Linked DNA regions of Homo sapiens: region 1 is linked to region 2. The links come from fine-mapping of genetic effects on gene expression. A gene starts in region 2. The other region holds a variant in brackets. All regions are shown on one strand. Distances are between the middles of the regions.

Evidence for each region.
Region 1: its variant is fine-mapped to the expression of WWP1 in regulatory T cells (Bossini-Castillo 2019, PIP 0.95).

Annotation. Positions count from the first base shown.
Region 1 is chr8:86,429,098-86,432,135 of GRCh38, forward strand. It overlaps WWP1 (WW domain containing E3 ubiquitin protein ligase 1), which reads left to right. Exons shown (of 25, transcript NM_007013.4): 12 at 1,600-1,654; 13 at 2,309-2,393; 14 at 2,518-2,646. Among named protein-coding and RNA genes, the nearest start is that of RMDN1, 78 kb to the right of the region's middle. The variant CAT/C (reference allele first, on the strand shown) is at 1,701.
Region 2 is chr8:86,341,121-86,343,878 of GRCh38, forward strand. WWP1 (WW domain containing E3 ubiquitin protein ligase 1) reads left to right here and starts at 1,427. Exons shown (of 25, transcript NM_007013.4): 1 at 1,427-1,810. It overlaps WWP1-AS1 (WWP1 antisense RNA 1), which reads right to left. Exons shown (of 6, transcript XR_007060994.1): 2 at 2,470-2,540; 3 at 1,962-2,156. RefSeq lists a silencer at 1,518-1,977.

The sequences.
Region 1 (3,038 bases), 88 kb after region 2:
TTCAGGCCTGTTACTTCGTTTATATACTCTGCACTATGGGCCTCACATCCATAGTCTAGGCAAGAAGAAAGAGAAAGAGGAATTGAAAGGGCAGATGGCTCTGTTGTTGCAAGCCCTTGCCTTTTTTACTTAGCGAAGGATGCCCTCACCATGGCCTTCTGCCTATACCTCATTGGCCAGAATTGGTCACTCTACCAACTCAGCTGCAGGGAAGGGGGAATGGAATGATCTTTATGGCCACGTTTCTACCTCCAACAAAACAGGGTTTTGGTTCTCAAGAACAGGTGGAAGATAAATATTGAGTATAATTAACTGGGTCTGTTACAAGATTATATTCATCAAGATGCATATACTTTAAGAAATTATTTTTCAGGTAATGATTTTTATATTTGTCATTATTATAGAATTCTTGATAGAATACTTATATTTTCTTCAGAATATATTTCTAGGTTATAAGAATGGAGGCATACATAAAAATGTGTTTTTATGTATGTATGAAAATATAAAAGATACTAATTAAAAGTTTATTTCTATAAATGATACTGGAGTTGAGTGTTAGTTTTATTAGTGGGCATTTGTTTTAAAGAAAATTGTGATAACTGTTCTATTTTTAAACAAATAATATTGCCTCATTTAAACATCATAATTTCCTATATGTTCTTCTCCCATTTCATCTTCCCTCTATAGATTAGTATGGAAGGACTGGGAGAGTAAAGTATTGATGCCAGTGTATTATTTTTAAATCATTTTCGAAAAACTAATAATTAATTTGATAGTTGATAGTCTCCTCTTCGTGACATTTTATGAACTTAGTGTCTTGGCTGGGAGCGGTGGCTTACACCTGTAATCCCAGCACTGTGGGAGGCTGAGGCGGGTGGATCGCTTGAGCCTAGGAGTTCGAGACCAGCCTCAGAAACATGGCAAAACCTTGTCTCTACAAAAAATACAAATATTAGCCGGGTGTGGTGGCGCATATCTGTAGTCCTAGCTACTCGGTTGTTGCTGAGGTGGGAGGATTGCTTGAGCCCGGGAAGCAGAGGCTGCTGTGAGCTGAGATCACGCCACTGCACCCCAGTCTGGGTAATAGAGCAGGAAGATCCTGTCTCAAAAAACAAAGAACTTTGTGTCTTGAAATTGCTATATTTCCTTATAATGTGGACCTATCTATCTGTCTATATAATAATATAGATATATTTTTGAGACAGCTTCTCGCTCTGTTGTGCAGGCTGGAGTGCAGTAGTAGTGTGATCACAGTTCACTGTAGCCTCCACCTCCTGGGCTCAAGTGATCCTCCCACTTCAGCCTTCCAAGTAGCTGGGACTTTAGGCATGTGCCAACACATCTGGCTAATTAAAAAAAAATTTTTTTTTATAGAGACAGGATCTTCCAGGCTGGTCTTGAACTCCTGGGCTTAAGTAATCCTCCCACCTTGCCCTCCCAAGGTGCTGAGATTACAGGCATGAGCCACTGCGCCCAACCCCTTATCATATTTTTAGAAAATTATTATAAAATGTGATTCTGCCACATGCTTGGCTTATTTCTACTTTCATATTAAAACACTGTTATTTTATTTCTCTCCCTAATCTTTTCTCCAATCAGGCTTCAATGTTAGCTGCAGAAAATGACCCTTATGGACCTTTGCCACCAGGCTGGGGTAAGCTGTTTTTGCTAATGATCTATAAGGGAGATATATATCTCTC[CAT/C]ATATATATATATATATATATATATATATATATGTTCCTTATTTTATATATATATATCTCCCTTATATATGTCCCTTAACATATATATATCCCTTATAATATATAATATATTTAATATGGATTATATATTCTATATATTATATATTCTGTAGAATGTTATATATTCTGTATACTATATAGAATATATAATCCATATTAAATATATTATATATTATAAGGGATATATATGTATATTATATATGTATATATTATAAGGGATATATATATGTATATTATAAGGGATATATATATGTATTATATATATAATATACAGAATATATAGAATAGATTATATATTAAAGAATTATATATTATAGAATATATATTATATTCTACATAATTATCTATAATATAATATATATTATATTCTCTATAATATAATATATGTTATATTCTCTATAATATATATTATATTCTATATAATATATTCTATAATATATAAGGGATACATATATCCCTGATATGTTTTTATATATATAATATATATTATATATAATTATATGTGTTCCTTATTTTATATATAGATCCTAAATAGTTATTAAATATTATACTCACTTTATATTTCAGAAAAAAGAGTGGATTCAACAGACAGGGTTTACTTTGTGAATCATAACACAAAAACAACCCAGTGGGAAGATCCAAGAACTCAAGGGTATGTATATACAGCAGCCTTAAGTCGTCTTGCATATATCAGTAGGTAGAACCAACCAACCTTGAATGAGATATTTTTAGTACCTAGAAAAGGTTCATCTTGTGATTTTAACTTTATCTTTTAGCTTACAGAATGAAGAACCCCTGCCAGAAGGCTGGGAAATTAGATATACTCGTGAAGGTGTAAGGTACTTTGTTGATCATAACACAAGAACAACAACATTCAAAGATCCTCGCAATGGGAAGTCATCTGTGTGAGTGAAAACCTGAAGTTCTCCTTTAAATATTGCTTAGTGAGCACATGAGATTTAGTCTCTAATTTATCCTCAAGTTTAGCAAAACATTTTACTTTTTGGTTCAAGAAAACCTACACAAGTGAAACCTTAGTATAGCTGTCTTTGCTCTCATTTGACAATGGATTTGCAGCATGTAAACTATTTATGTAGTGATTACTGTGTGCCGAGGATTGTTCTAAGTACTTCATAGGTATTAACTCATTTTATCTTCCAATAACCCCTTGAGGTAGATACTATTATTTTTCCCTTTACCAAGTGAGGAGAGGTATAGGGAGCATAACTAACTGTGCAAAGTTATAAGGCAAGTAATGGAGCTGGTTTCTAACGATGACAGTCAGTCTCTGTCTAGA
Region 2 (2,758 bases):
TCCAGATCCCTGCTGGGGAATACCTACGGAATTTCTGAGGACGTGTTTGTAAGCACATTATTGCATCTATTTAAAGGGACCAGACAGCAAAAGCAAAAAGATGAAGAAAATCTTAGTACATGTTTAAAGCAGAGATGAGTGGGCACATATGGGGCACTGTGAAGAGTTTTTCATAACAGGAGAGATAGAGCATGTGAGCATCAAAGGAACCTTGAATATCACGTTAATCTTTGTCAGGAGAGCTCCGAAAAGCCAAAGAATGATTTTAAGCAGTGGAATGACACAGATGTATATTTTCGAATGATCTTTGTGGATATAATGTGCACCAATTTCAACTATGAAGCCAGAGGACAAGAACTAATGCATGGAGGTAGGCGGGAATGTGCATTGTTCAGTCAAGAGATACTTGTTGAATTCTGTACACACTCATGAAGTGTTGGGGTTGTTTTTGGTACACAGTTCTTTCAAAAAGCTCAGTTAAAATGGAAGGGGAGAGAGAACCAGAGGTTTTAAAATCAAGGGAAAATTTAGGACCTAATCTTAAAACGTGATTATGCTGAGGAGTTGTAGGCAGTGGAGAGGGTGAAGTTAAAGATGTGCCAAGGACCGCCCACAGTGGGGAGCAGGCAGTGGAGAGGAGCAGGGACATCTAGCCTCCGAGATAGAAGGAAAACTAGTAAGTCTGGGTGTGGACGTAGATATAATCTATGGGGGTTGGTCAGGTGGTTGGGCAAAAGCTGTAGAAATCCATGCCTGAAGGCTTCTGCTTCTCTGAAGTAGAAACCGGGTCACCTGGTAAGCAATGTGGTCCCACTGACTTCTATTTGCACATTGGCCTTTCTTCTAAAAGCAATACACATAACCAACAGTACTTTTCTAAACTAGTTGACTTTTCTGTAAAATGCAGACAGTAGACACTACTTTGTCAGATTGTTGTGTGCGTTAATTGTGCGGACACGTATACTCGGTCAATAAGTATCTGCTTTATCACCGGGCTGATGTGAGTGAGGACTAGGTGGTGGGGCTTCCACAGATGAACGTTTTGATTAATAAAAAATGGACTGAAAGTCTTCGGGTATGACCAATGGCTAAATGCAATTATTTACTCTTGCAATGTGTTCGAGGTCACCCAGCTAGGTCAAGGAGTATTTATGGACAGCCTACTTTTGCCCCCGGACCTTAAGAAGTCCTGCTCCGGGATCAGCCGCCGACCGGAAAGTCAAATTAGCAGTGCCCAGCGCGAGCTTAGAGCAGCCTCTTCCCAAATCTCAGCGGCGGCCCCGCCCCTTCCACACGTTCAGGCCCCGCCCCTCCCTACTATTGGCTGTCCGTCCCCCTCCGCTAGACTGCTCGGAAGACCCGGAGGAGCGGAGTTTTCCTAAGGCAGCATCCGAGCGCCCTCGCTGCGCATGCTCGGGGGAGGCGGATTCCGGGTCCGGAGTTGGAGGCTTTGGGCGGCCGCGGCGTAGCGCGCGGTGCCGGGGCCGGCGGGGAGGCGCGCGCTTAGGGCGCGGCGCCGGCGACGCGGCCACGCGGCGCGCTCCCGAGGAAGGGAGGTGTGGGGTCGGCTGGGGGTGGCGCGTGGACGGGGTGGGGGTGGGGGGAGGGTCGGGTGTCGGCGAGCTCCGCGTGCGGGTTCCGAGTGGCTGCTGGCGGCCTGGGCTGCCGGGGCCGACGCCTGGGTGGCTGCTGCCGCCGCGCCTGCTGCGAGATGGCGATCTTGGGCGCGGAAGGGTGAGGGCGCCCGCCGCAGGAGGAGGTGCCGCTGCCGTGGCCGCCCGGCTGCCGGGAGCCGACAGCTTCGCGCCGGGTAAGGACGGCGCGGCGCGGGGCTGGGGGTGCGAATGGGCAGGGCGGGAGGGGGCACGGGCCCTGAGCCTTGGCCGCGGTGCTGGGCGCCCGGCGCCGTCCGCCCCCGGGCTGGACCCTCCTAGGACCCGTCGGGGGACGGTCCGCCCTACCTTGGCTACCTTCTCCAGCCCGGGAGTCGGGAGTTTTCTGGGGTGGGGTCACGGGTCTTGCCCGGAGTTCGCCCTGGCAAAGGCCTGTGCCAGTGATCCTGGAGCGGAGCGAAGTGTTTCCGTGACTCTGCAGCCGCAGTTCTTAGGCTTCCTTAGCCTTCTCTTCGCCTTCCTCCACCTTTCCCTAACACCTCCCTGAAAACACAAATACATGGACTCATTGCCCGTTCCCTGACTTTCACCCCAATTTCAGCGTTGCAAACCAAGGACTCCAGCTTTGGAACGTCTTTTTCTGACATGTTTTTATCACTCTCCGTTCTTCACCGACTCTGCAGCTCCCCATCCCCCGCCCCCCCAGCGCAACCCCCACCTCCACCTTTTGTGACCTGGTAGGTTCCAGTGACCTTGCAGATTTTACCAGTCCTTATCTTGTCTGTGACTTACAGACTCTCCTTTCATCTTCGTGTTCTTTTTTTAAAAAAATTTAATTTTGTAGTTTGCTCCTTACCTTTACGACCTTTAAATGATCAGTCTTGTTCACAGTCCTTTCTTTGCTCTGCCGATTTGGAGTTTTCTCTGCTGTGGTAAATATATGAAACCTTCATTACCAAAGAAGAGTAGTGTCTGTTATAATTTTGACATTTTTACTCTTTCAGAATAAAATATTTTCCAGGGGCTTGATTTTGCCTTCTTTTTCTATTTGATAAGTTTAACAAATTTTTTTCTGTGTGTGTGTAGGTTAATGTGGAACAAGATTTTGTGTTTCTGCTTTAAAATGTTACTGGTAATAGTAGTGG